Regions from separate parts of the Homo sapiens genome. Here regions 2, 3, 4, 5, 6 and 7 are each reported to be linked to region 1. The links are microRNA targets in miRTarBase. Many come from high-throughput screens and were not tested one by one. Region 1 holds a microRNA gene; each other region holds the end of a gene's coding sequence.

Region 1 (4,096 bases):
AGGTTGCAGTGGGCCGAGATCGCGCCACTGCACTCCAGCCTGGGCGACAGTGAGATTCTGTCTTAAAAAAAAAAAAAAAAGGGAAATAAAGCTAACTGTACTATCTCAAATACTGTTGTTGTGATCAGAATGGAGAGGCTGTCTGGGCAGGAGAAAGGAGGACTAGAACTGGAAGGCACAGAAGTAAAAGGGCAAGGGAAAAAGGCAAGCCATGGAGAGATGTCCAACATCCCTCAACTAAGGCCTCAGGGGAGTCTGACCCATCTTTCAGTTTCTACATGCCTCATGATGCCAAGATCCCTCTCAGGGTCCAGCAGAGGACCTCAAAACCCTATTCCTCTTGGACCCATTTCTTGCACCAAAGTTTAGGGAAGATTTCTCAAGTCCCAAACTCTGCTGTTGAAAACCAGGCACAAACTAGCTGCCTTCTTCACTTGATCTTAGCCAAAAGACCAGGAATACTAGCTGCCTTCTTAAAGAAGCTCCCCAAATATTCCTCTCATTCAATTTATTTTAACAAGTTTTAATTAAGCCTACTAGGCACTGTGGGAGACAGAGAAGTAAATGGCTGAGTCATTGCTCTCAAATTTTTCTTTCTTTTTTTTTTTTTTTGAGATGGAGTCTCGCTCTGTTGCCCAGGCTGGAGTGCAGTGGCGCAATCTCGGCTCACTTCAACTTCTGCCTCCAAGATTCATTCAAGAGTCTCCTGCCTCAGCCACCCAAGTAGCTGAGACTACAGGCGTGCATTACCACGCCTGGCTAATTTTTGTATTTTTAGTAGAGACGAGGTTTCACCATGTTGGCCAGGCTGGTCTTGAACCCCTGACCTCAGGTGATCCGCCCGCCTCGGCCTCCCAAAGTGTTGGGATTACAGGCGTGAGCCACCGCACCCGGCCTCAATTTCCTTGTAATTGGTCCTGGGAGAATCATTCTGTGGGTTGATTCAAGGGATCCTATTAATCTTTAAGATTAAGTCATGGGCAACGCTGTCCAAATCTTGGATGCCCAGACAGGTGTGCCCTCAAGCAGCATTACCATCAAACACCCCGTGACCAAGAGGGAGTGGTGCTGAGAAAGGTAAGTGGATTCAGGGAAGGAGTGAGGTCTTTCCATGCCTCATGAGCCAGGGAAGGAGCTGTAGGTATGGGATGCCAGCAGCACACAGGTCCTTTTCTTTGGGGAGCAATCCTCTCGAGTTAACCCCCTTTCCTTTCTGGTGCATTCCTTTTTTTCTCAAGGAGGCCTACTCTGTACCTAATAGTGATTCTCCTAATCTTTTTCCACTCACTCTCCATTCCGGGCTGAGTCTGGGAATGCTTATCCTTCTTAGCCTAAGGAGTTGCCACCACTTCTGGTCCTTAAAGGTTTGAGGCTTTGGAAGATATCCTCATACAACCAGCAGATGGCATCAAAACCTTCCACCCCTCAGCTCAGGAAATCTCCCAGTTTGAAGAACCTATTCAGATCTCTCCAGATGGGTCTACAAAAAGATGAGTGAGCTGTCAAGACTTAACACAGGGTTGTATCTAGGCTTTGCAACCTAAGAGCTACACAATCTTAGCCAAACTGTTTAAACCTTTCTGACCCTCAGTTTTTCATCCATAAAATGGGGCTGTTACCTCCCAGAAGTTATTAGGTTTCACAGTAACGGAGGCAGTGTCTATCACAAGCACTGCATACAGAAGTAGTTCCATAAATGAGAGCTATTAGTATAACTAACAAGTGAGGCTACCCAGATTCCCACCAGGGTAGCTGACTGGTGCCCAGATGGGAGAGGAATTGCAATGCTGAGGAGGCAGCCAGCGCTGGGTAGCACTACACGGCCAATGCCCTTTTAACATTGCACTGCTAGTGACAGGTGCAGACAGTAGCACAATGTGAAAAGAGCTCTGGCCAGCAGCAGAGGCATGCCGGCCCTGCCTCCTCACTCCTTCTCCCAGTCCCTGGCCCACTCAGCTCACGGGCTCCCTCTGCCCCTTCTTTGCTTCAATACAGCTTTTTTCCCTTTTATTCCATTCTTAGTGTTCATTCTATTTTTTCACCACTCTTCCTTTTGCCGCCTTCTTCACCAACCCCCTGACCCCCAGCACAGAGACCACCTTTTTCTTGGAGGTTTTGGCATGGGAGGACAGGACCCACTAAAGCAGCTGCAGGGATACTTCGGGCTTGATGCTCAGTCCTCAAAGAAAACGGCTATTAGCAATCCCCAAAGTCTGGAGGTCACTCGTATGAGGCTGTGTTCATCTGGATTTGCATTTCCGCTAGCTTACCTTCTAGAGAGGAGCTTGCTGCCCAAGACTACAGAACCCTCTACTCTTCTCTAAGTTTCCATCTCCTTTTAAATTTAGATAAAGCAGAGCTCTAGGCCTCAAGGCAACACTCTCAGATGACCTTCCAGGACCAGAGAGGTGGGAGCCTGTAGTCACAGCTCCCCACGCAGTAGAGAGAAGCTTCCAGGCGGGGAGGTGAAAGCTGCTGGTGAAGCCCCACCCCTGCATCTCCTTTTGGAGGTCCTGAAAGCACTTTGCAGATTCAGCATTAAAATGGTGAGGGTGATTCGCTCACAGTTACTGAGAGTTAGGGATAGGCTTTCACTGGCAGTGGGATTCACATCTGAGTTATTTCCTGTCTTATCCAGGGACCCTTGGTTGGGGAGTCTTCAAGCTCATCCTAGCACTTCCCCATCCTATCCAACCCTAAGGGGGCTTAAATACAGGACAAACAGTCCCCGGAAGATTAACACCCAAAGCCAGAAAGCTGCCCTGGAAGGACACCTGGATATCTGGAGGCTCAGACCCAGGCAGGCTCTATTGTGGCACATTCCAGCTAGGGCCACAGCCCCGGAGCCCAGCTCCAGTTCTGACCCAGTGAACTTTGGGCAGCCCAGAGAAACAGAGGCTGGAGGGTGATTCCTCCAGTGCCCCGATCAACGAAGGGGAGATGCCTTCTTCCCTAATCCACAGCCACCGTAAGGAATAGAGGACAGAATTCCAGTTGGGAGCTCTTCCTCTGGGCTTCCCTCTAGCCTCGTCCCACCCCCTCAGGAAGCAGGAGACGTTCCCTCCCGCTCTCCCCGGCAGAGTTTGTTCCCGTAATCTGCAAACATGGGGCCCTGCCCTACAGTTTTAATGGGCGGAAACCAAGACCCCTCGAGGGTCAGTGACCTCTCTGCTCTGGGGTTGGGCAAACCAGGCCCAGCTGGGAACTGGATCACACCAACAGGGGGCAGAGGGGCAAAGATAAGGCTGCACAGCAAGCTTCAGGGAGGCCAGGGGAAGATTCTTCCCCAAGAAGTTTCCAGGTCTCTCCTTAGGGAGTGCAGGGAGAAAGGGCCAAGAGCCCCTCAGCTCTCACACACCCAACTCATTCCTGAGGAGCAGGCCCAGCGACTCACCAGCCAGCAGGACCCCTCCCCCACCTTGGGCCCAGGAGCCAGCCCCCAGCTCCTTCCAGAAGCGAGTGTAGAGACCGAGGAGGAAATGGGGGAGGGGAGGCCCCGGCTCAAGTTCTCTCCTCTCCCCCTCCTCATTGGCCACCATCTTCCGGCCCCTGCCCCCAGAGCAGCAGGGGATGGGGCCCAGCCTGTGAAAGGGAGAGAAAGGGCAGGTGGGGGGTTAGCTGGAGCAGCAGGGGCAGGGGGCTGGCCCCAACTGTCTCCTCCCACCCCCTCCTCGCAGCCATGGCGACGGGAGGAGGAGACCAGGAGGGTCCTGAAAGCCATGTTCTGTGAATGGGATGAGAGAGGCAGCTGGGAAGTGGGGGGTGAGGGGCGCTCTCCTTCAACACCCAACTGTGCTCCCCCCGAACACACACACCTCGAGGCTGGACCACACAGGCGCACGTACACACCACACACACACACACACACACACACAAACTCTCAGCCATACTTGCTGCACAACTCAGCCCTCATTACACACCCAAACAACAAGAACTGGAGTGTGAGCGCACGCCCCCCACACACACACATCCCCGCACCCCTCAACACCCCACAACTATCAGCTCGAAAACCAGCCTCACACCCCCACACCGCCCCTGGCTCACCCTACAACTTCTGGAGGTGCAGAACTCCCTGCCCTGCTCCAGCCCTTCGGCC
Region 2 (4,096 bases), not on the chromosome of region 1:
ATGTGGGCTTTAGAGTTCAAACGAAGTCAGGCTCAAACATAGTTCTGTGATAAGCCCTGAGCAAGTTACCCGGGTCTTCCATTTCCCCCTTCTGGAGAAGTCCTTTGGAGGATGAGTCCTTCTGGAGGATGAGTCCTTCTGGAGGATGAAGTCCTTCTGGAGGATGAGTTCGTTGTAAGAATAAAATGAGAATGTAAGACACCTAGAGGATGCCCGAGTAAAAAATGACAGTTGCTAGTAGTAGTAATTTGTAGGGCTCATTATCTAGAATAATTTTGTTTGACGTTACTAATTAAAATGAACTCTTAAAGAAAAGCAGTGTATTTAGACTCTTGTAGTTAAGAAAAATTACACCACAGAGCCCTTTTTACTTTTTAAATTCATTTTTACATTTTAAATTCATTGCATGTATTCATTATGATTCCCGTTGCTACTATTTTTTAGACTTGACAACTACATTTTATTTCTTTTCTTCCATAAAAGGTGTTTTACAGCTTTCACCACAGCTGCATCAGCTTATAGTTACTATCATTATGGCCGGAAGACTGTTCAGGTGATAAAAGACTGATGAAAGTCATCCCTCACTGTTAGTAAGGAAGCAGTATACATCAATGGGAACAGGGCCCATGGAAATGTACAGGAGTTTCCCTATTTTGGTGTTCAGCTTGAAAAAGGACTTGTCAGAATCAACTGTGTCATCAAAATTTAAGTAATGTGCATTGAAAATAAGGTTGATCATGGGAATATGCAGAATTTCCAATGTATTTTTAAATACAAATAAAATTGTAATTTAGAATTTTTAATCTTAGGTTTCTTGATTAATTTATAAGAGATCAATTATTGTCAGTCTTTTTTGTATGTTTTTTAAAAACATAGTCCAGAGCATGGGCAGAATTGACACCTCTCTTTTAAGTGAAATTTGGATTGCTCACAAAGCACTAGGAAATGTCATGGGGTTCAAATATATATCCTACACAACTGGGCAATACATTTTTGTTTGATTTTTAGGTCTGTGTATACATTAACAGTTCATGTAATTAATACCTGATCATTTGGGATAATGAAAGTGAAGTTAGTTGTAGATGAAGTAAAGTTATAAAAGAGATTAAAAATGCGGTAACTTTTTAAGATAATAATCATACAGAAGGTATGAAGTTCATTTTCGGTAGTCTTCCAACCTCTCAGGTGCCTAATAATTTATGTTTGAGGATAACAGGTAACAAAGATAGTCGAGATAGGAGAACGTGTCTATTAGTCTTTGCATCTAAAAGGCAGTGAGTTACGTTCCTGCCTTCCACTGTGTTTCTGACATAGCAATGTTTGTTTGATATTGGAACCTGGATTCATATTTTATGTAAATAATATCAAGCTGTATATTTTTCAAAGGTTTTTTAAACTTTGGAGACTCTTTCTTTTGTTAAGCAGTTAAAGGAATAAAAGAGCTGGAAAAAAAATTGTACCTTCAACTCAGGTTGTTCCATATAACATACGTATTCTCTGCTGTTACGTAAGTTTTCCGATTCACAGAGTCCATTCATGTACATCACTTACACTTAAATTGTAAAAATAATTAGTCTGACCATCTGACTTTAAAAGACTGTTGCTACACGTACATCATGTTTAGGAGAATGTGGGATATGGGGAAGGGGAGAAGAAGACAGTCCAGTGGTGACTAGTTGCTGCTGCTTAACCTATGGCCTATTGCTGCCCATTGTCCCTGGTTTTAATCCAAGCCTATTATGGAATACTGCAGTGAGATTATCCATTCTCAGCCTGTTGAGCTGCATTAAATTAGAATGGGAGGCTGTAAGTAAAACTCATGCCTCTTGGCCAGGCATTCTGCACCAGCGTGTCCCTCTGTGGCTTGCTGGTCCTGGTTGTTCTCAGACTGGCAGCTGAGCTGCGCTTGGCTTGAAGCATACTGAAGCCTGCAGCCAGGGACACCGCCATTGAATCAGATGGAGGGGGATGAAAAAGCAGAGAAGGGGGCATGTGGCTGGCTATTCTTGCTCTCTGGAGAACAGCTTCATTGTTAGGAGTAGTTAGGCTGAAAGTGGACTTCCCACTGCTGAGCCACCCAAGAGGCACACTGAGCATTAGTGACGGGTGAGCCACATAAGAATAATGTTTAAAAAAGAGAGGACTTGAAGTAGCTATGCGAAAATTTAGAACTTTGCACTTTGTTAACGCTTATTTATGGTTTAGTGTTGATGCCATTTGGAGTGACCTATGGGTTGGACCCATATCTTTTTATTATTAAGGTCTCAATCTGGCTCTGGTTAATAAACGTTTCCCGCTTCATCCCTTAGGAAAATGGTCCAAGTCTCCTCAGGCTTTTGGATACTGAATTGTTATAAAACACATCAATTCTGCCAGTTTATAAAACACTGGAATTGTATTAGACATGTCTGAGTATGTACTTGTTTATAGACTCAAAACATGATGAAAATTCATTTCATTGTCTTCACTGAATAGACTTAACCTTGACAGTAAGCTTAAAGCATTAGTGTCATTTAATTACATGTCTGAGGAATTTATGCTAACTAGATTTTGGGCTTTTGCAGCGAATTTTAGTCGGGGCCTCATTCCTGAGCCCAAGTGACCCTTTCACCTCAGCTTCCCAAGTAGCTGGGATTACAGGTGCACACCAACTGTGCTTTGCAGTTTTGTTTGTGTGTGTGTGTGTGTGTGTGTGTGTGTGTGTGTGTGTGTGTATTTTGTTTTTTTTACAAGCCCACAACATCATAGCTTTGCAGTTTTTAACCAGGAGCTGGTGGAGATCTTTGAAATCATTTAGGCCAATTCTTTTAGTTACATTTATGATGAAACTAGGGATCTACCTTAAAGTTTTGGGAAGCTCTTTCAAAACTTCAGACACCTAGAAATATATATAGTGCAGTTCAGTTTTAGTTTCTGCAGCATGGTTTGGAAACAAAAGATACATAGGATTTAAACTCGATTTGTTTTCTTCTTACAGTAGAAGTAAATGCTCTTGTGGCTTGAATCGCATCTCCCAAGAAAGATACGTTCACGTTCAAACCCCCAGTACTGTACATGTGACCTTATTTGGAAATAGGGTCTTTTTAGATGCAGTCAAGATAGAATTAGATCATACTGGATTACAGTGGGCCCCAATAACTAGGTTTTTTTGTTAAAAAAAAAAAAAAAGGAAATGTGAACAGAGAGAGAATGCCGTGAGATGATGGAGGGATAGATTGGAATGATGTCTGCGAGCTAAGGAATACTGAGGATTGCTGCCAACCATCCGAAGCTGGGAGAGGAGATGGAACAACTCCCTCGGAGCCTCCAAGAGGAACCAACCCCACTGATGCTTTGATTTGGGATTTCCGGCCTGAACTGTAGGAAAATAAATTTCTGTTCTTTTAAGCCATTTTTACCAGTTTGTGGTAACTTGTTACAGCAGCTGCAGGAAATTAATAAATGCCAATGTTGAAAATTAAAATCTAGAAATATGGCTCTAATTATAATTTCATAGAATCATTTTTTCCCCTGAGTTTCCCCTGAGTTTGCATAAAAGTGAAAAAGTAGAGGACAGAGTAGATGCCTCCCACATGAAGACACAGATTATTAAGGCATTGTTTGATGCAATTAGGGCAGAGAAACACGGGCTTCTAGCTAGAGCCTCGGGTTCTCTTTTGCTCATTTCTTCCCTCTAATTAAGAAAAAATATTTCCAAAGTTTATTATGCCTCCTAAAAAATGAATTTATAATTCATTTGTCCATTTAGTCTTAGGTGAAATGCAGTAAACACTAACTTAAAAGGACAGCCTTTCCCTGTGTTTGACAAATGTTCCCAGAAAACTGGTTTTAACTGTAAAGCCGGGAGTACATTTTCTTGTCATGTCCTGAAATGGAACTAATAAACCCAGAAGGCCTTAGGAAGCAACCATTAGCTCTCCCCCTTACCCTAGTTCTCAGGAATTGGAACTGGAAATCCACTGGAATTGATTTCTTGAATAACAGAGCTCGTTGTGTCTTAGAGCTTGACCATGAAGGAGCTTCCGCTGGAAAGACCTGAGGATGTGATTTCTAACATGATCAAAGAGGCTGGGTTATGCAACTTCTCTGTTTCATC
Region 3 (4,000 bases), not on the chromosome of region 1:
GTTTTTACGTCAGGTTTATGATGGGTTTTCATTCATTGGCAACACTGGACCTTACGAGGTTTCTAAGAAGCTGTATACCTTGAAACAAAGTTTGGCCAAAGTGGAGAATGCTTGTTATGCCTTGAAAGTCAGAGGGTCAGAAATTCCAAAACATATGTTGGCAGATGTGTTTTCAGTTAAAACAGAAATGATAGATCAAGAAGAGGGCATTTCTTAGAATCTAACGTTACTCAGTTACTAATTCTTTTGAGAACTCCTAAGAGACCAATTTGTAAGACTTATTTAGTATTTCATTTAACTTTATTGTGGCTTTTACATAGAAACATATTCAGTTGTACTTGTTTTAAATTGTATACAAGCTGTACATAAAATTAGCCAAATGAATCATTTCTTATATCTTATTCATGAAAGTTTGCATACAGATGTTTGCATATATGCCTTTTTGAATTTTTGCTGGTTAACCTTTATCATTTATCTTTGTAATGTGAACATGCTTCAGAGTGTACCTTTTGCCATAACCTATTTTAATTTACTTTTTCTGAAGTTTGGAGTGATAATTTTTAGTGGAAGCAATTTGTAATTTAAGTTGGTAGTTATATTATATATAGAAAAGATTTTTTAGTTAAACTTCTGGACATGAGCGTCCTGTTTAAATTTCTTGTTAATATCGTGCCAAGCCTCAAAAATAGGCTTATTCCATGGAACAAGAATTAAAAATGAATAAGCTATCAATATATAATTTAAGTACAAGTTTAGGCTGGGCGTGGTGGCTCACGCCTGTAATCCCAGCACTTTGGGAGGCCGAGGTAGGCAGATCACGAGGTCAAGAGATCAAGACCAGCCTGACCAACGTGGCGAAACCTCGTCTCTACTAGAAATACAAAAATTAGCTGGATATGGTGGTATGTGCCTGTAATCCCAGCTACTTGGGAGGCTGAGGCAGGAGACTCGCTTGAACCTGGGAGGCAGAGGTTGCAGTGAGCCGAGATTGCGCCACTGCACTCCAGCCTGGGTAACAGAGCAAGACTCCATCTCAAAAAAAGAAAGAAAGAAAAAAGAAAGTACAAGTTTATAAAGTATTATAGTGAAAAATTCGCATTCTGGCTGATTTTAAGCCATTTAAAATTTATATAAAACAACCTTCCATAAAAATTTGACAGGTGCCCAGATGTTGCTTTCTCCATTTATTTTTTGTTTTTTTTTAATCACAGTAGGTCTGATAGAGAATTGGAGCTAAATTATAATATTTTTGTTGGTAAAGTTGAGTTATATACTTGTACATACAATGGAAATGCTTTTAGTAGTGATTATTTAGCAATTTTTGTTTTTGTTATATTAGGCATGTTTGGAGGCTTTCCTATTCTAGCATTTAAATTTAAATTTTATTAAAATTAAATAATTTAAATCTAGCATTTAAATTTAAATAATTTAAGTCTAGCATTTACTTTTAAATAATTATAATGAAGTTTTGAAATACTAAGTTAATCCAGACCTTTAGTTGTCCCATGGTGTTAATAAAGTTGCCAAAGAAGATGTATTATGAACAATTCAGCAATAAGACAATTGTCAACACAGTTGAGAATAACAATGGTAATCGTTAGTAATATTTAGAATTGGAATTTGCCTACTGAAATAGTTATAGATGATTACTTGTGATGTGAAACTGAATTGAGCATGACAACCAGACATTTCCAGTTGGTTTTGTAAGTTTTGAGAATCTAGATACTGGGTTTTATTTTTTGAAAGATTAGCTCTGTTTGTAAGGGCTGATTCCTTGAAAATGTAATTTTCCAGAAAAACACCTAAAGAAAATAAAACATGGACATGCCTAGTAAATTCTGTTTTTTTGTTTGTTCGTGTTAGTGATGGTGGGTTTTTTGGTTTTGCAACTCACCTGTAGTCAACTCACTACAGGTGAGTTGGTGCCATTGCTACTGATATATCTCCACAGTTCATGTCATACTAATACTGTGGGTGTTACGCCAACTCTGAGTCTCACTTTTAAAAATACTTACTATGATGGCATCATGTGTGGTAACAGTTTTCATCTTTAATAGAAAAAGAAACTGGTTCTAGGTCACATGGTAAGTTACTGACAAAATTCTGAAAGAATATTGGGTTCTTTCATAAATAATTTCCAGCATGTATTACATCAGTGAATTTTTTTATTTTTTTAGACTTAGTCTCTCTCTATTGCCCAGACTGGAGTGCAGTGGCATGATCTTGGCTCACTTCAGCCTCCACTTCCTGGGTTCAAGCGATTTTCCTTCCTCAGCCTCCCGAGTAGCTGGGATTACAAGCACATGCCACCATGCCTGGCTAATTTTCTATTTTTAGTAGAGATGGCATTTTCATCATGTTGGCCAGGTTGGTCTCAAACACCTGACCTCAAGTGATCCTCTCACTTCAGCCTCCCAAAGTGCTGGGATTACAGGCGTGAGCCACTGCGCGCAGCCTACATCAGTGATTTTTAAAGTACACATTGAGTGCGCTGGGGCTTTTTGAAGGTGTCTCAAAGAAAGATGATATTTAAATTAGATTGGCAGAACAGATTTGAAAATTCAGTCCCTTTATGTCTACATAAGAGTTACTTTAGATTCAGACACACAAGTAGATTGAAAGTAAAAGGATGGAAAAAGATACTCCATGCAAACAATAACCGAAAGAGAGCTAGAGTGGTTATATGAATAATATCCAACAAAATAGACTTCAAGAAAATTATTTTTTGCCAGAAACAACATACAATAAAACACTCAACCCATCAAGAATACGTACCAATTATATACGTGTGTATATACGTGTACACACATATTTCTAACAGAGCCCCAAAATACATAAAGCAAAATTTAAGTGGAGAGAAATAGACAATTCAACAGTAATCATTGTAGATTTCAGTACCCCACTTCCAATGGCTAGGACACCATGACAGAAGATCAGTAAGGAACTTGAACCACTCTGTAGACCAATTGGATTTAACAGACATATATACAGAACACTCCACTGAACAGCAGAATGCATATTTTTCTCAAGTGCACATGAAACATTCTTTGCAAAATTTCAGACCACAAAACATCTCAATAAACTTAAAAATACTGAAATCATACAAAATGTGTTCTCTTACCACAATGGAATGAAACTATAAATCAATAGAAGGAAAGTGGTATAATTTACTAATAGGTGGAAGTTAAACAATGTACTCCTAAGTAACCAGTGGATCAAAGATGAAATCACAGGGAAATTAGAAAATACTTGGGGGTGAATGGAAAGAAAAAGTTGATATACAATAGCATATGGGATGCAGTGGAGCTGTGTTGAGATAGAACTTTATAGCTTTAAATGCCTGCATTTAAAGAAGGTTTCAAATTAATAAGCTAAACTTCAGCCTTAAGAAATTAGAAAAAGAAGGGCAAAGTAAACCACAAAAGAAGCAGAAGAAAGGTAATAAAGATTTTAGCAGAAATACGAAATACAGAAGAGAAAAACAATTGAGGGCTGGGTGTGGCAGCTCACACCTGTAATCCCAGCACTTGGGAGGCCGAGGCCGGTGGATCACCTGAGGTCAGGAGCTCGAGACCAGTCTGGCCAACATGGCGACACCTTGTCTCTACTAAAAAATACAAAAGTTAGTTGGGTGTGGTGGCATGTGCCTGTATTCCTAGCTACTTGGGAGGCTGAGGCAGGAGAATCTCTTGAACCCAGGAGGCGGAGGTTGCAGTGAGCCACTGCACTCCAGCCTGGGTGACAGAGCGAGACTCCATCCAAAAATAATAATAATAAATAATTGAGAATAGCAACAAAACCAAAAGTTGACTCTTCGTGAAGATCAACAAAATTAACCTTTGGCTAAACTGATGAAGAGAAAAAGACTCAAATTACTAAGATCAGGAATGAACGAGGGAACGTTACTACCAACCATACAGAAGTAAAAATGGGCAGTGGTGCGATCTCGGCTCACTGCAACCTCCGCCTTCTGGGTTCAAGCAATCCTCCTGTCTCAGCC
Region 4 (4,096 bases), not on the chromosome of region 1:
GAGGTGGAGGTTGCAGTGAGCTGAGATCGTGCCACTGCACTCTAGCCTGGGTGACACAGCGAGACTCCATGCCCACCAAAAAAAAAAAAAAAAGAATATACATTTATAGTTAAAATTACACTTTTAAAGTAAGAAAAGCTCTCACATCTACTGGCAGGTATAGAAAAAAAGGAATAAAGTAAGAAAGCTACCAAAAAAGCTCAAAAATAATTTTCAAGTACATTATCTACATTATCCCAGCCAGTTAACTTACTATGTACTAAGTATCTCCCACTTTAATCTTACATTGTTGAAAACTGAACATTTCCCTCTGACCCTCCTGTCTTTATCTACAACCTAATAAAAATGGCTGGGTTGCCAATGATCCACCCAAGTACAGTTAATTCAGGATTCCAACTCCCATTTCCAGTATCAGAATATAGTCACAATACCTGCTGCTTCAAACACTGGAACTTTCTGGCTTCAGTTTCATCAAAATTGAGACCTGCCTTGGCTAGAAAATTCCAATTCCATTATTTCAATTTCTAATTACATAAAAACCAAACAAATCTGTTTTTTACTTAAGTGAACAAAATCCGTGAAATCATACCAAGTTTCTGCTAGACAGAGCACAGCTGTGAGGTTGCTACAGCAACTCTTACACTGACCATAGACTGACTGCTCCATCCAGGAAAGAAATCTTTTGCTCCACCCCCTGAGGAGTCAAAGGCTCTGGCAAGCAGGCAGTCTGTGAGTTCAGTAGCTGTGATGAAGCAACAAGACACCATTCTTCATTGTCTCTCAATAATAAATGTCACCTCAACAACCACACCATACTCCAAACCTATTTGCTGTGTGTGGTTACATGTTTCAGCACAATGACAGGACTGTGTTCTTTACCCCCTCCCATTAGAAACCTGGGCTAGGAAAGATGACAAAGCCATTTCCCTTCAGGCACACAGAAAGAGATAAAAACCAAAATAAGTGAGAATATTCCCACTTTTACCAATAATATATTTAGGTGTTTGCTTTTAGGCTTCAACCCATGCAAACATGTGTTCTACATTTTTTTTTTTTTTTTGCCACTCAGATTCAAAAAATATTTATTGAGTGTTTAATAAGTGTCAACTCTTCTGCTGGGTGCTTTCCCATGTTATTTCATTAACTCCTCACAACAAATTAGTATAGTCCTGTGAGGGAGATATTAGTATAATCCTCACTTTACAGATGAGAAACTGAGGCTCCAGAAAGTTATCTGACTTGTCCAAGCTATTAAATGGTAGAGTCCCAGAATTTGAAACCAAGTTTCCTAGCTCTGAAGTTGTGGTTTTTTCTACTACACTGGACTAATTTTTAAGAAAATTCTCAGTTGAAATATTCCATGTTCCTAAAATGGTTTTAATTTTTTTTTTTTTTTTTGAGACAGAGTCTTGCTGTGTCACCAGGCTGGAGTACAGTGGTGAGATCTCAGCTCACTGCAACCTCCATCTCCCAGGTTCAAGCGATTCCCCTGCCTCAGTCTCCCAAGTAGCTGGGATTACAGGCATGCGCCACCACACCCGGCTAATTTTTGTAATTTAGTAGAGACAGGGTTTCACATGTTGGCCAGGATGGTCTCAATCTCCTGACCTCGTGATCTGCCTGCCTCGGCCTCCCAAAGTGCTGGGATTATAGGTGTGAGCCACCGCGCCTGGACGGTTTTTAAATTTTTAATGATAATTTTTAAAGCAATACCTTTTCACAAGTAATGAATTATTAATAACTAAATATATTCAGCCACCTTCCTAAATGTATAGAAAACAAAGGCACAGAACTATAGGTCTGCATTATGGTCCTGGTGGATAGCAGAAAGCTAAAAAGTTTAGCAAAAAGCTAAGCTTAAGCTATAAAACTCATATCCTCAAGGAGGAAAGGCAAAGTAGAAAAACAGGTAAGGTGATGCAACTGAGTTTAGATCAAACACCCTATGGAACATCTCCAGGGCTGAGGAGCTAAGGGTGTGAATGAGTGGGAGTGAAAGCTGGCAAAGGGCACATGCACTATTTACAACAGGAGGAAATTTTGATCTCTGCCATTAACTACTTTCAAGGACAATTTCAAGCATCAATGTGCCCATCTTCAGTCACTTCCCCACTTCCAGGTATGGAAGGTATTCTAACATGGTATCTCTCCTCACCATTAGAATGAATTATAGTTCTCTTCCTCCCCAAAAGATCCATAATTACCAACTTTTTCCTACACAAGCTTCTTGGGAATTTCCTAGGAAAACAGAAAAACTGTCTTTTAAAAATTGCTCTCCTTAGCTTCCCAAGATCCTGACCTAAAAATTCTTTCACATCTATAGCTTGAACATTCCATCAGCTGTGGGTTCAAAGAATTCAGTAAATATGTACTTCCAACTCTGTCCCTTAGGAATCACCATCTCTTAAACTGCTACCCTATATTTGAGCTCCTCCATTCTATTATATCTTTTCTCTCTGTCCTCTATTTCTAATTCAGTTCATGACTCTAGTTCCCCAGTTGCCTCAGAGGATTTGAGTGAGAAACCAAGAGTTCAGAAGAGTTGTACTAGTTCCCATAGGCTTCCAGAAAAATGATCAAGTGTAAATTTATTATAAAGCATGCATACACAATGACATTTGACATTATTGATTTTAAAATATAAAAAATAAAAATATACCATACTACCGTGAATTTCTGCTGGATGAGGTAATTTAATGCCCAGCTTCCTCTTCCTCTATACTTTCTTGTACAAAAAAAAAATACCACTTTTGTGGGTCCTAGAAATTCACAGTCTCAATTTATACTGATGGACATTACATACAATGCAAAGAATAAAAGTCAGCAAAAGTTATAAAGTAGTAAGATAAAATTGATCATTGATTTTTTAAAAAAAACTAGTTTTGTAAAAGAGAATGGGAATAGCAGAGGAAAGCTTCTGCAACTGAATTACTGTCTCCTAAAAATTAAGTAGCTATAGGTTCCTACTGTCTCATAAAACTTGGATTAAAGGCTTCTTCACAAAACTGTGTAACTATTAAGTTTTTCCTTTTCCAAAAGAGAAAAACATTTCACAGCTCTAAAACAAAATAGAAAGAAGGCACCAGGAAAGCTAAATGATCTTTCTGAACTCTGTTCATTGAACATTGGTTTTTAAGGTTCCAAACCTACTAAATGAAAAGTGGAATGAATGGTACTTGTAGCTTGGATTTAACTCAATTTTGAATATTGTCAATCTAGTACAATTTCTTAAATTTAGCTTAAGATATCTGCAAAGCCAACAATGTTTCTAAGACAAGATGAGGTTACGGGCTTCAATCAATAAGAAAAATAAAAAAGCAATTAATTTATTATTTGGAACCCACCAGGTCATTAGGCATTAATTTTTAAATACTGCAACTTCATGTTTTATAGAAACTAGAAACATGATTCAAAATGTCACAAAGTTATATTAAATTAAAACCACTTTAGACAATTCAAGGTCTCACTGACAAAGTTCATTAAGGTGACAGTTTTGCTGTTTTGTTACTGTTCCCACATGATATCATCTCTTCTCAATTTCATTTGAAGATTATGAACTCGTATTGGATGAAAGCTGCTGTTTTTCTGAAAAAGGTTAGTGTCAGTCAAACATTTTCTGGGGCTATTTTTTATGTTCTTTGATCCTTTAGGGTAGCTGTCTTCTTGCTGAATACCTGAAGCTTCACTCATCTTTGAGTTTTGAACTTTTTGCTGCAGTTTACAGACCTGGAGAGAAAAAAAAATCTAACATTTTAGTCAAAAATATACTAAAAATATATTCCAAAATAGATAGGTTGAATTGATGGTTTAACGTTAAAAAGTTAAAATTGAACATTAAAAAATTCAATTCATTAAGTTTTTAATTTATTGAACATCTATTACATGCCTAACACTGTGCTTGTCAGGTAGAAATATAATGAGAAAAAAGCTCTTACTTTCAAGGAGCTTACTGCTCCTATTAGTGAAAAAAAGCACATATGTGACAACTAGAGAATACTCTGAGCCAGGATAACTTTGAATAAGACAAAAAGTGTATATGTAAGAAGGCCAAAGTCGGATAAGGTCAACATGGGCTGCAGAGATTGAGGGAAAGGTT
Region 5 (4,096 bases), not on the chromosome of region 1:
AATCATAAAGGAGAAGCACCTGGGCCTCTTAAAGGCAAACCACATAAAAGGTTACAGGGTGCTTCTCTTAAGGATTCTAGGACCATAGGTGTGTTTGGGAATGACCAATGGAAAAATCCAGTTAGATGATTTACACAGATGTTCTCTATGTAGATTTGAATTTAAATTAAAATGCCAGCTATGCATTTGGGAACCAGCTTTTAGTTAAATTCTCTAGCACTTTTAGAATTATTTGATTTTATTAAAAAAGAATCATTGTCTACAAACTGTTTTCTAACAATGCAAATACAGTAAGCAAGTCATCTGCAATATCAAAATATTGTTTGTAAATCACTGATGGCACCAACGATTTGAGGAATTTCCAATAGGACACATATTGAGAAAAAGCAACAGATTATAGGCATTAACCAAATTTTAAGATCAGAAAATTATAAAAATCATTAAGTTTAAATTATCCAATTTTCAATAGCTTAAATCCAATCATCAGGAATTCAGAAGCACCCAATATGTTTGAAGTTGCACAAATGCATATGGATGATAGGAAAGTAATCCCCATGCAATATCTTAAGTGTTGCTATCAGATATATTTAAGTGCTACTTTACAGATTAAGCTGGGTAAAATCAAAATATATTTTACTTCCCATTAGATTTTAAAACAATCACAATAATTTATCAACAGTTGCCATTTCACAGCAATTAGAAAAGAGGAGTTGATACAAGTTGAACAGAAAGGTATCTTTTCTTCTTTTAGGAAATAAACATATATATATATATGTATATATATTTCACATACACACATAACATTATCTTTAAAATTCCAAGTGGTTACTTTTGTATTATAAAAAAATTATCTCCCTATGGTCAAAATACTGAAAAAGCGCAAAGGCTGAAAAAAGAAAACCACATTTGCCACTTTAAAAAAATACATTATTGTCTCAGTGGTTCTATTTATTTAATTGATTATAAAGTATTATGACTCCTAGTACTGTACTGGACCTGATGGAATTAAATACACCCCTTTCTCAGTCTCCAGAAAGGATACTCCTAACCCACCCTAAAATATGATAAAATAAATGCCCCTATTCTGAACTGTTAAACTGGGAAATAAACCATGCCCACCTGGAAACAATATAAGTCATAAAAGTTTATGAATCTGTGGGAGAGACTACACGAATCAGAAAGCAATTCTTTGGATATAAGTTAGGAGCTTTTAGAAGTATATAAACTCTTTTAGGCATCTAGAGTAGAGACACAAAGAGGATTTCTCCATAAATAATGATTTGGCCAGTGCAATGGTTGGTTGCCCATGGTCTGCATCTGGGATGTCATCTGTTTTTGTAAATAAAGTTTTATTGGAACATAACTGTGCTCATTTGTTTACATAATGTCTATTGCTGCTTTTGTGGTAAAATGGCAGGGTTGACTAGCTGTGACAGAGACCGTATGGGCTGCAAAGCCTAAAATATTTACTCTCTGGCCCTTCCACAGAAAGTTTACTGACCTCCTGATCTAGTTCACCAAGTACTGCTCTAGTTACCTAAAAGAGTTAATGCACCTCAAGAAGATTTGAGCATGTGGTGCAAGAATAACTTGCATACTGGGTTTGTTCATTAGCATGTAATGTCAAACCACACCTTGAAGTGGTGCTTTATTTTGGGCGAGGAAATAATTTGTATACACTTTCAGGAAATACCTATAAAAGTCAATTTGAAAAAAGGAAAGAAAAAAGCCAAATTTAAAAAAAGCCTGCCTATGTTCTTTTAATATTTTTATATTATTGTGAGGAAAGGGTGCTAAGATGATTGTTCTGTCATTCTTTTAGTTTTTCTTTAGTTTATAAATGTTTCTTTTGTTTATAAATGTTTTCTCATAAGAAGTGTTCCCTCATGCCCTCCCATAACCTTTAAGGCAATCTACCTAAAATGCTTACAGTATGGTGAAGCCTTATTCAGAAATATTTACTTAAACCATAGGTATAGAATAGCTACCATTTCTGAATAATAATGTAAAATGAAAACAGAAACAGCTTTCAAATTTGAAGAGAAAAGTTTCCCTGACCCTAGTCAGCTAACAAAGCCTATTTCTAACAGTGAACTTCCTGAACTCAAGCAGCTGCTCATGAAGCTTTAAGAGTTCACAGGCATTTCATATTTCAATAGTTGTTGAAACATGGAAGATAAAACACTGAGAGGATATTTATCAAACACAAATTTATATCAAGATTAACTTTTTCAACCAGCTTACAAGCAGACTTTTCCCTTTCTTTGTTAAAAAATGAATGGTATGAAACTATATGTTAAAGATGTTTCTATAATACCTTACATTTACATAGCGCTTTACAATTTTCAAAGTGCTTTCACATGCCATCTCATTTAATCCTCACAACAGCCCTGTGAGGTAGGTACAGCAGGTATTATTATCCTCATTTCAAGATGAGGAAATTGAGGCAAAGAGAGGTTAAGTGACTTGCCCAAGATCACACAGCTGTAAGTGCTAGAGCTAGGACCTGAAATCAAGTTTTTTGACTCCTTGTCCAGTACTCATTCCACTGTAATTACTGCCTCAAGTTATGAATAATGAACTGTGTATCAAAATTGAAAGCTTACTGAAGTTCATTTCAGTGATGTCTTAACAGTAAAGTTAAATGAGAAATACAAGAACAGTAGGTCTGATGGTTTTACTTGACATAAAATTGGTGCAAAACCACTTTTGTCTAATTACTTGTAACCTTTTGGTCCAAATACATAAAATATGCAATATTTACAGCATTTTCCTTGTTTTGTAAATGCAATGCTTTAAAACACATTATAAAGCACCTTAGTAAAAATAGTCTACAGGTAAAAGTACAGAAGAAGTAGGAAAATCCTACCCATACCACAGCTCACTAATGGAGTCATAATACGGAGTCACCGATATCTCAGTTTACAGCTTTACAAATAACCCATGGAGAAACAAATACTAAACTTACTTTTTTGATATTAATGTGTGAAAATCTTAACTAAAACTTCAGACAATCTCAATATTCTTTGAAGTATCTTCCCAGTATTAGATATTGAGGAGGCAGGAATGAGAAATACTGCTTTGATGCTTTATCTTTTTACCATATTAGTCATGATTTAAATTGATTTTTAACACTAATCACCATTTAAAAAATTAAAACCACCTACATAAATATGGGCAAATCCAACTACAGCAGAAACATTTCTTAGCAAATATGATTAAACATTCCAATAAATTTCATGAGACATGACTCACAAAAACAAAGTACACACTGCCAAACAGTTATTAACACAATTCAGTAGAGGTGTATAACCCAAACCCTCAGTGAAGGCAGAAGAGGCAAATGGACTCATCTTAATTCATGGTTAGTTGAAAAAATGCTTTATCAAAAACAAGAGTATCAGAACCTTTTCTGAAATTGTATTTAGCCTTTTGATTAGACCTGCCATAAGTTCATTTTAGGTGATGTATATTTTCTCCCAGGCAGGAGGTTATAACTTTCACCAACGTTTAGCCAGGAAAAATAAAAATGCCTGAAACTTAGAACACTGACAATGCCAGCCAGTATCTACTTCCTTGACGTTACTGTCTGTTTCCTAATTTGGCTCAATACAAATTGTCATATACACCTACTGTCAGCAATCCAGACTGTGGAGCTGAGAACAAAGGTGAAGACAGGGTCAAATTTTAGTTCAAGAATCCAATAGTCACACCTTATACTCAGTTCGACTTAGGGTAAATCTTTTCATAGAAAAAGTTTTGTGCGAGGATGTAGAGGTCTCCATCTTTTTCTCGAACGGCATGGGCTCTGATGAATTGGAACTGCTCTAGTGCAAATTCATAGAACTCATTCTCCATTTTCCAAATATCAGATTGCTGTAGTTTTGCAATGGTTTGTTTAGTGGGGAGTTTCTTCTCTGTGGTTTTCCTAAGATGAGATTTCTTTCCTACTTACAAAGGGGGAAAAAAAGGAAAGGTAAATAATTCTTGGAGAACACACAAAAGATCAATGCCTCTTTATTTGAAGAGGTGGTTAATATGACACATTAAGAACAGGTAACATAATTGTCTTATATAATTCAGGTAAAAACGGAGC
Region 6 (4,000 bases), not on the chromosome of region 1:
TAAACCAAGGATCATTTTTTATTGTCATTGGGATATTATGGTCAAAGCAGTTAGTATCTGGACATAATCTATAATGTCACATGGTTTTATTGCTAACTTGGGTTATTATCTAAATTTGCCTTAATAATCTATTTGTTGCTTTAAAGGAAACTTCTTAAGAACTACTATAAATTTATTGGATTCTAGAATCTAGGATTTAGGCTACTAATGCTGTAGGCATACTGGGTTTCTCTTATAATTTCTATTTCAGAAAGCTATGTTCAGCAATTGTATAGTTAGAGTTAGCCAAAATAAACAAAGTCCTGATGTATTTGACATGTGATATTACCAAATATCACACAGAAATGGAGACTGCATAATAAAGGCATGGCTGTAATGAAAGTGAAAATTCTACTTTTTAGGGCCATCACATTTATTTCACTAAGCTATGGTTAAATGACTTATCCAGGCACATCACCTCTATGGGTATTTGTACATTTGAAAATGAAAAAATATATATATAGTCTTAGGTTGTGTACAGTCATGCCCTGAGTGCTGAAATGTGGACACTGACCTATCCACAAGGAGCCCTCAGGCACATTAATACGTTGGCACATCATGTTTCCCAAAAGCACATGCATGTGTGTGTCTATTTCAACTCTTAACAATTGCTCAACACCACTCTAAACCATTTTCGCTTCCATAAAGCTAATTATCGCAGATCTTCCCAAAAGAGAAGTTCACATTTCCTTGATCACAGCTATACTCTCATTACCTAGGAAGAACCCTGGGACCTCTGGGGCTGTTTGCCCCCGCAGAGCACTGCTCATTCCTGCAGATTCATTTGGGACTTGGGTTTCAAGTTCAATGATTCTTCATTGAGATACAATGAACTTATCTAACTGTATTCTTGTTAGTACGGGCATCTAGACTGAAATGAACTAAACTGCATCATTTCATTTTATATTAGGAGAAATCTAATGTGCATTAATTAAGTAGTCAATCATGAATACCATTTATAATAGAAATAATTCCTTTAAGTATATTTTCTAAGTAATACATTTTATATCACATAAGGCTAATATACATGATGTAAAAGTCATCTATTGTACCAAGATGATTGAAATATTTTGCAGATAAACTTCTTGTGCTGCTATAATTATCCCAAAGCTGTTTAAAGAGGCTCCATGCTGCAGCATGAAAGTACATTAGAGAATACAGCACATTTCCTGAGTGAAGAACTGAAATTTCTCTTAAAATTTCAAGTGTGTGTTGAAACATTGTCATAGGGCATCACCTTGATACTGTGCTTTAATTCATGTTGCTTTGAGAAGCCAAGAATTTGGTGTAAACACATGTAGTTTGAAAGTTTCCACTGTTATTAAAATAGTATAATCCATTTTGTCACCAATTCCCTGTCCTAGGACAAGAAACGTGAATTTGTGTTCTGGCCATGAAATCTAGAATCAAAAAAAGAAAAAAAAAAAAAAAAAGAAAAACCTATAGATTTCCAACTTTAACAATATGACAACTTGGGTGTTTTGTTTTATTGTGAAAAAGATTTTAAACAATGTGTCAATACTGCCTATTGTCATATATTTTCTTTTCCTTCAAAGTCCTCCCAGCTGGCGTTCCAAATGACAACTTTGGTGAGGGAAAAAACAAATTCAGCAGCCAGGTGTCTGGCACCTAACACCAGACAAAGATGACCATCAATATTTAAACACCTAATCCTTTAAAGTGTGAATAATGTTTACATGAAAAGCTAGCAACAATACAGAATGTGGTTACCTTAATTTAATAATGAGCTGCATCTCTGAGTATGTTTTAGGAAGAATTTCTATTATCCAAGAATCCTAAAGGAAGATATTAACTGAGGTGAATGTGGGAATTTGTATAAGTCAATGCTTCTAAAGGAGAACTTCTTTCGGTAATCATTAAACAAAAAGTACACTTCTTGGCTAGGTGCAGTGGCTCATGCTTGTAATCTCAGCACTTTGGGAGGCCAAGGTGGGTGGATCACTTGAGGTCAGGAGCTCGAGACCACCCTGGCCAACATGGTGAAACCCCATCTGTACTAAAAATACAAAAATTAGCCGGACATGGTGGCACCCAACTGTAATCTCAATTACTTGGGAGGCTGAGGCACGAGAGTCGCATGAACCCAGGAGGCAGAGGTTGCAGCGGGCTGAGATCGCGCCACTGTACTCCAGCATGGGTGACAGAGAGAGACTCCATCTCAAAACAAACAAACAAAAAAACAAAGTACATTTTTTAACAGATATGTAAAAAATATACAAAACATTTTATATATATTATATAATACATAATATACATATTATATAATGTATATATTTTGTGTGTATGTATACAAAATAGCTGACAATTATTTCCCAATTTTTTAAGTTGTTCAATGGGTTTGGTTCTCAACACAACAGACAAAACAGGTACCCTAAGGATCACATCACATTTCTAAAAGCACAAAAACCTCCAACTGCAAACTTAGAGGCATCTCTAAACATCACTAAAATTTGCAGAGGCATGATACATTTGCTGACCATGTTCTAATAAAACCATTGTTTAAAGTAGTAGGTTCCTTTTGTCAGTCAAAATTTTACATGTGAAAATAAACTTTCTTCAAGTGTCATTTTGCTGTAAGGTTTTACAGGATAAGGCACTCTCTCAGTCTGCATGACCTTGCTTCCAGCCCCAGAGCTTACTGTGTACATGTTAAATTAGTTAGCATCATATCACTGCAACAAATAAAAAGAATAACCTCAAAAGAGAGTGCAAGGTATTGCTCTTCAATTTTTCAGTAAAGATAGAAATGAAGAGACAAAACTAATATAGCTGTATAAATTAGAATGGATAGCCATACATCTCCGAAATAATGAAAATACGTAAACTGATCAGACTTTTGATGTCAGATTTAGATGGTAGTAGACTAGCTATAACACTGACTTAAAATTCTGCTTTTGTAAGAAATTTATAAGAAGGAAGGTCAATAACTATATTTTCTTCTATTAAGACTAACCCTTCACTATTTGAATACTGAACTAAATGACAGCTTTACAAAACTATTTCAAGTAATATTCATTATCACAGTGAAAATATGAGACCAATGTTAGAGTGAATGATTTGAAAATTCCTTTGATGAAAAAGGCAAGGGTACTAAATCAAAACATATACAAAATGCTTCAACGCATTTCTTTATGTGATATGAATAGAAAGATTATCCATACAAAGTTAGAAAAATTAAGATAAATTATATATTAGTACACCTTCCAACCACATTTTATATAAAAATTCAGAAGTGTACTATTATTTCAATCTACACCATAAAAATGCCTGGACTTAGCAGATAATCTTCTATCTGTGATGTATTTTCTCAGTAGAAGGTTTATTTGTTGCAGTCACTTTTTAAGAGTTTAATTTTCATTGTTAACCTTACTGAATCATCAGTAAACCCAGCTGATTGGGACCCACTGTGGTTCCATTCTCAGTTTCTCTATGGCAGTTTGCAGTTTTTCAAAGGCTTTGTCTAGATTATCATTTATGATGATCAAATCAAAATAGTGGTTGTATGCTCTCTGAATCCGTGCACTTTCATCCACTGTTTTCTTCAAGTCAGAGTCCTGTTGAAGAGTTTTAAAAGGAAATGTTTGTATTACAATGCATATTTACTTGCTCAAACTCCAACTAGAAGTGAATATAATAAATAGGTTAGATATATTTCTGGTAATTCTGGTATTAATCTTCAAAATCTAATCCATATAGTGTTAAAGACAACACTGCCATCTGTTCATGTCTTATTCTTTCCAACAACACTCATGTTTACATTTATGAGTATTCTGCATCTTTTGCCTCACTTATATTAGGATAAAATTCCTAATTAAAAGACTGCTGAAAATAATCTTGGAATGAATCTACAGTAACAAAACAATTACTGCAGGTGACTGGTTTCCAGCTCCACTATATCATCCTTTTCGAAAGATTTTTATCTCATGGCCCATGTACAACA
Region 7 (4,096 bases), not on the chromosome of region 1:
TTCAGGTAAAGACTATTCCCTCACATATTCCAAACAAGACTGAGTGATGGGTCAACTGCTTCTTAATATACACAACTCATTTTTGTGCTTGCATAAATGTAATATGGTTAAAATGATCTAAGTAGGGGAAAATAAAGGACTTGATTGTTTCCAAAAATGTGAGACAGAGCACTTAGATTTTAAAATCTATGGGAGATGTTTTGGGATAAAACTTGCAACCCTGTGGTTAAGGCTTACTTTTTTTATTTAACACTTAATGCCTTGTGTGTTATATATTGGTACGCTCTTTTTGAGATGTGACCACTTGTTATCGAAGGCTTCCTCTCAGGATGCTCTGTAAAATGCTCCTGCATCAGCTTTGTTTATCCTGTAAAACTGGGCATGTTTCCCCATTGCCCTGTGCTTCAGTGTGGTTTCTCCCAATGCCTTAACCTTTTTCTTTCTCTTCTAGGTTTCTCCATTTCTTCTTGCATTATCTGGTAATAGTAGGGAACTAGTATTGGATTGAATGAATAGTCTTCCATTTTGGAAACGTTCATCCACTCTCATATTTATTTTTTGGTGCCTGCATGTTTGAAGACTGAAGCAGGCTAAAAGCTCTTGATGAAATTTGAGGGTGCTGAAGATGTTCCCACTAATTTCCAGCCATCACCTTTGGTGGGGTGGGCTTCGGAGGACAGTCTGTCTGAACCTGCCAGTGCTGACCCTGCAGCACTTTCAGCATATGCACATCAAAGTTGGAGACCGCGCTGAACTTAGGAGGGCCTTCACACAGACTGATGTGGCTACCTTCTCAGAATTAACAGGGGATGTCAATCCTTTGCATTTGAATGAAGACTTTGCAAAACACACCAAGTTTGGAAATACAATTGTACATGGAGTTTTGATCAACGGACTTATCTCAGCTCTCCTAGGAACTAAAATGCCAGGGCCAGGCTGTGTATTTCTTTCCCAGGAAATTAGCTTTCCAGCCCCTTTATATATTGGAGAAGTTGTTTTAGCTTCTGCAGAAGTGAAAAAGCTGAAGCGGTTCATTGCTATTATTGCAGTGTCATGTTCTGTAATAGAAAGTAAAAAGACTGTTATGGAAGGCTGGGTTAAAGTTATGGTTCCAGAAGCTTCCAAATCCTGAAATAGATGTTTTAAAGATGCAACCTCAAACACCAATGCTGTTGTTAAAGAGCCTATGGGGAATTGCTGCTCTTTACCAAAGAATGGTTGATAGGCCCAGAAGCCCATCTTAGTTAGGGGAAGGGAGCAGGAAGAGGGTTGTTCAAATGCCCACTTTCCAGTTTGGCCTTATGCTTCATGCAGACTTGAGTGTATGCAGGATTTCATTATCTGCCTGGGTTTTTTGTTTGTTTTTTGTTTTTTAATTCAAGAAGTAGGCTGGGCCCGGTGGCTCATGCCTGTAATCCTGGCACTTTGGGAGGCTGCGGCAGGCGGATCACTTGAGGTCAGGAGTCCAAGACCAGCCTGGCCAACATGGTGAAACCCCATCTCTACCAAAAAAAAAAAAAAAAAAAAAGTGCAACTAGCTGTGCTTGGTGACTTGGCCCTGTAGTCCCAGTTGCTTGGGAGGCTGAGGTGGGAGAATTGCTTGGGCCTGAGAGCTGGAGGTTATGGTGAGAAACTGAGATTGCACCACTGCACTGTAGCCTGAGTGACAGAGCGAGACCCTGTCTCAAGAAAGAAGTATTGGGAAGGTTATTTAAAGACTCTACTTTTAAATCAGGCGTGGCAGCTCACGCCTGTAATCCCAGCATTTTGGGAGGCTGAGGCAGGCGAATCACTTGAGGTCAGGAGTTCAAGACCAGCCTGGCCAACATGTGAAACCCCATCTCTACTAAAAATACAAAAACTAACCGGGCATGGTGGCGGGCACCTGTAATCCCAGCTACTTGGGAGGCTGAGGCAGGAGAATCTCTTGAACCTGGGAGGTTGCAGTGAGCTGAAATCACACCACTGCACTTCAGCCTGGGTGACAGAGCAAAACTCCACCTCAAAAAAAAAAAAAAGATTCTACTTTTAGAAATTCAGACCTAGATAGATTTGCATTTGGATAACAAATCCCTACCTATAGCCATGTGGAAGCAGCTTGTCACTGTATTTTAACTGTGTAACAATTATTGAAGGCGAAAATAGAAGTTGGGTCATCTTTGAACACCTACCTTTTATCAATGAATATTTTTAGACTGTTCTTCAGTATCTGAGTCAGAGTTTATTGTAATTTGTTATTTACACCAAGGTGGCATCTTAGTCTACCTTCAGTGAGACTTGCGTTTCAGGGGAGGGGCGTATGTGCATCCTCGGTCTCAGTTATGTAAACGGTCTGATCTGTAAAATAGTGGTAGCACATGCCATGTGGGATAGTTGGTGGAGATGATAGATGGAGTTAAGCACAGGGCCCAGCCTGTCAGCAGTAGCTACTATTATTGTTGCCCATTTCCCCTGCAACTGAGGTGAGAGGTTTTCCTGAGTTTGAAGCTGACTGGCCCACAGTTAAACGTAACAGACCAGTTTTTCAGGGTGTCAGCCAACCTCTATTAGTGTTCTTAAGTACAGTTTCTGTTATAAAAGTTCAGATTATTCCTTGAAAATTTGGATCTACCTCCCATTATTATGAGTAATACATGCTTATAGTAAAAAAAAAAAAATTGTAAGAAATAAATATTAAGAAGATTATGGAGGCCAAATTCTTAAGACTTTGGGGGCTGGGGTCAGGGAGGTTATATTGAAGGGGAGATGTGCCTAACATGTTACTACTAAATGGCCATCCCAACACAGCCAACACTTTTGTTTCCCATTTTTTTTTGTTTCCCGTTTTTTAATAAAATTGAGATATAATTCACATACCATAAAATTCACCTTTTAAAAGTGTACAGTTTAGTGGTTTTCAGAATATCCACAAAGTTGTACAACCATCACCAAATCAATTTTTTATAGCATTTTTCATCACCCCCAAAAGAACCTCCCATTAGCAGTCAATCCATTTCTCTCCTCCAGTCTTTGGGAATCACCAGTCTACTTTCTGTCTCTATGGGTTTCCCTGTTCTGGACATTTCATAAAAGTTCATACAATGTATGATCCTTTGGAACTGGCTTCTTTGATATAGCATGTTTTCAGGGTTCATCCATGTTACAGCATGTATCAGTACATCATTTTATTTTATGGCTGAATAATATTCCATTGTATTTACCCATACATCAGTTGATATTTGGATTATTTTCGCTTTTGGGCTGTTAAAAATAATGTTATGAACATTATAGAAGAGGTTTTTATGTGCACAGGTTTTAAATATATATATATATATATATTTTCTTTTTTTCTTTTTTGAGATGGAGTCTTGCTCTGTCGCCCAGGCTGGAGTGCAGTGGTGCGATCCCAGCTCACTGCAAGCTCCTCCTCCTGGGTTCAGGCCATTCTCCTGCCTCAGCCTCCCAAGTAGCTGGGACTACAGGCGCCTGCAACCACGCCCGGCTAATTTTTTGTATTTTTAATAGAGACGGGGTTTCACCGTGTTAACCGGGATGGTCTCGATCTCCTGACCTCGTGATCTGCCTGCCTCGGCCTCCCAAAGTGCTGGGATTACAGGCGTTAGCCATTGCGCCTGGCCGACAGGTTTTAAATTCTAGGAGTGGAATTGCTGGATCATGTAACTTTAATATTATAAAGAATTGTCAAATTGTTGTTCAAATTACTATTGGGCATGAGGTGGTATCTCATTGTAGTTATGATTTCCATTTCTCTAATGTCAGCCAACACATTCAAGACAATCTATGACAGAATTTTTAATTTTTACCCAGAGAGCAGCTGAACAGACAACTAGAAAGAATTATTCTAGGCCAGGCGTGGTGGCTCATGCCTGTAATTCTCAGCACTTTGGGAGGCCAAGGCAGGCGGATCACGAGGTCGAGGTCAAGAGATTGAGACCATCCTGGCCATCATGATGAAACCCCATCTCTACTAAGAATACAAAAAAATTAACTGGGTGTGGTGGTGCGTGCCTGTAATCCCAGCTACTCGGAGGCTGAGGCAGGAAGATTGCTTGAACTGGGAGGTGGAGGTTGCATTGAGCTGAGATCGTGCCCCTGC

What was found. Region 1 holds the annotated microRNA hsa-miR-130a-5p (GCUCUUUUCACAUUGUGCUACU, at 1,867-1,888, opposite strand). A microRNA usually pairs through its seed, bases 2 to 8, with sites in the 3' UTR of a target mRNA and lowers its output. Matches are read on the target gene's strand: a 7mer-m8 pairs with bases 2 to 8, a 7mer-A1 pairs with bases 2 to 7 and ends in A, and an 8mer does both.
Region 2: miRTarBase lists CRLS1 as a target of hsa-miR-130a-5p. Seed matches in the 3' UTR shown: 8mer at 1,098-1,105, 7mer-m8 at 1,436-1,442 and 8mer at 2,133-2,140.
Region 3: miRTarBase lists TSNAX as a target of hsa-miR-130a-5p. The part of its 3' UTR that is shown has no 7-base or 8-base seed match.
Region 4: the mRNA of CEP57L1 is a reported target of hsa-miR-130a-5p. The part of its 3' UTR that is shown has no 7-base or 8-base seed match.
Region 5: miRTarBase lists HS2ST1 as a target of hsa-miR-130a-5p. Seed matches in the 3' UTR shown: 7mer-m8 at 1,226-1,232.
Region 6: miRTarBase lists PALS2 as a target of hsa-miR-130a-5p. The part of its 3' UTR that is shown has no 7-base or 8-base seed match.
Region 7: the mRNA of RPP14 is a reported target of hsa-miR-130a-5p. The part of its 3' UTR that is shown has no 7-base or 8-base seed match.

The regions. Positions count from the first base shown.
Region 1 is chr11:57,639,004-57,643,099 of GRCh38, reverse strand. MIR130A (microRNA 130a) reads right to left here and starts at 1,902; the gene lies at 1,814-1,902. The region is part of intron 1 of MIR130AHG (MIR130A host gene); the gene reads right to left. RefSeq lists an enhancer at 3,105-3,684.
Region 2 is chr20:6,036,591-6,040,686 of GRCh38, forward strand. CRLS1 (cardiolipin synthase 1) reads left to right here. Exons shown (of 7, transcript NM_019095.6): 7 at 484-3,463. The coding sequence ends at 568. It overlaps LRRN4 (leucine rich repeat neuronal 4), which reads right to left. Exons shown (of 5, transcript NM_152611.5): 5 at 3,956-4,096. Among named protein-coding and RNA genes, the nearest start is that of LRRN4, 15 kb to the right of the region's middle.
Region 3 is chr1:231,564,689-231,568,688 of GRCh38, forward strand. It overlaps TSNAX (translin associated factor X), which reads left to right. Exons shown (of 6, transcript NM_005999.3): 6 at 1-1,836. The coding sequence ends at 217. The region is part of intron 4 of TSNAX-DISC1 (TSNAX-DISC1 readthrough (NMD candidate)); the gene reads left to right. Among named protein-coding and RNA genes, the nearest start is that of TSNAX, 38 kb to the left of the region's middle.
Region 4 is chr6:109,162,379-109,166,474 of GRCh38, reverse strand. It overlaps CEP57L1 (centrosomal protein 57 like 1), which reads right to left. Exons shown (of 11, transcript NM_001271852.3): 11 at 1-3,726. The coding sequence ends at 3,505. It also overlaps the pseudogene CCDC162P. Among named protein-coding and RNA genes, the nearest start is that of CEP57L1, 69 kb to the right of the region's middle.
Region 5 is chr1:87,104,321-87,108,416 of GRCh38, reverse strand. HS2ST1 (heparan sulfate 2-O-sulfotransferase 1) reads right to left here. Exons shown (of 7, transcript NM_012262.4): 7 at 1-3,947. The coding sequence ends at 3,721. Among named protein-coding and RNA genes, the nearest start is that of LINC01140, 23 kb to the left of the region's middle.
Region 6 is chr7:24,687,052-24,691,051 of GRCh38, reverse strand. It overlaps PALS2 (protein associated with LIN7 2, MAGUK p55 family member), which reads right to left. Exons shown (of 12, transcript NM_001303037.2): 12 at 1-3,614. The coding sequence ends at 3,438. Among named protein-coding and RNA genes, the nearest start is that of GSDME, 68 kb to the left of the region's middle.
Region 7 is chr3:58,316,989-58,321,084 of GRCh38, forward strand. It overlaps RPP14 (ribonuclease P/MRP subunit p14), which reads left to right. Exons shown (of 6, transcript NM_007042.6): 5 at 1-5; 6 at 452-3,205. The coding sequence ends at 508. HTD2 (hydroxyacyl-thioester dehydratase type 2) reads left to right here. Exons shown (of 5, transcript NM_001348712.2): 4 at 1-5; 5 at 452-3,205. The coding sequence starts at 626. The coding sequence ends at 1,132. Among named protein-coding and RNA genes, the nearest start is that of HTD2, 13 kb to the left of the region's middle.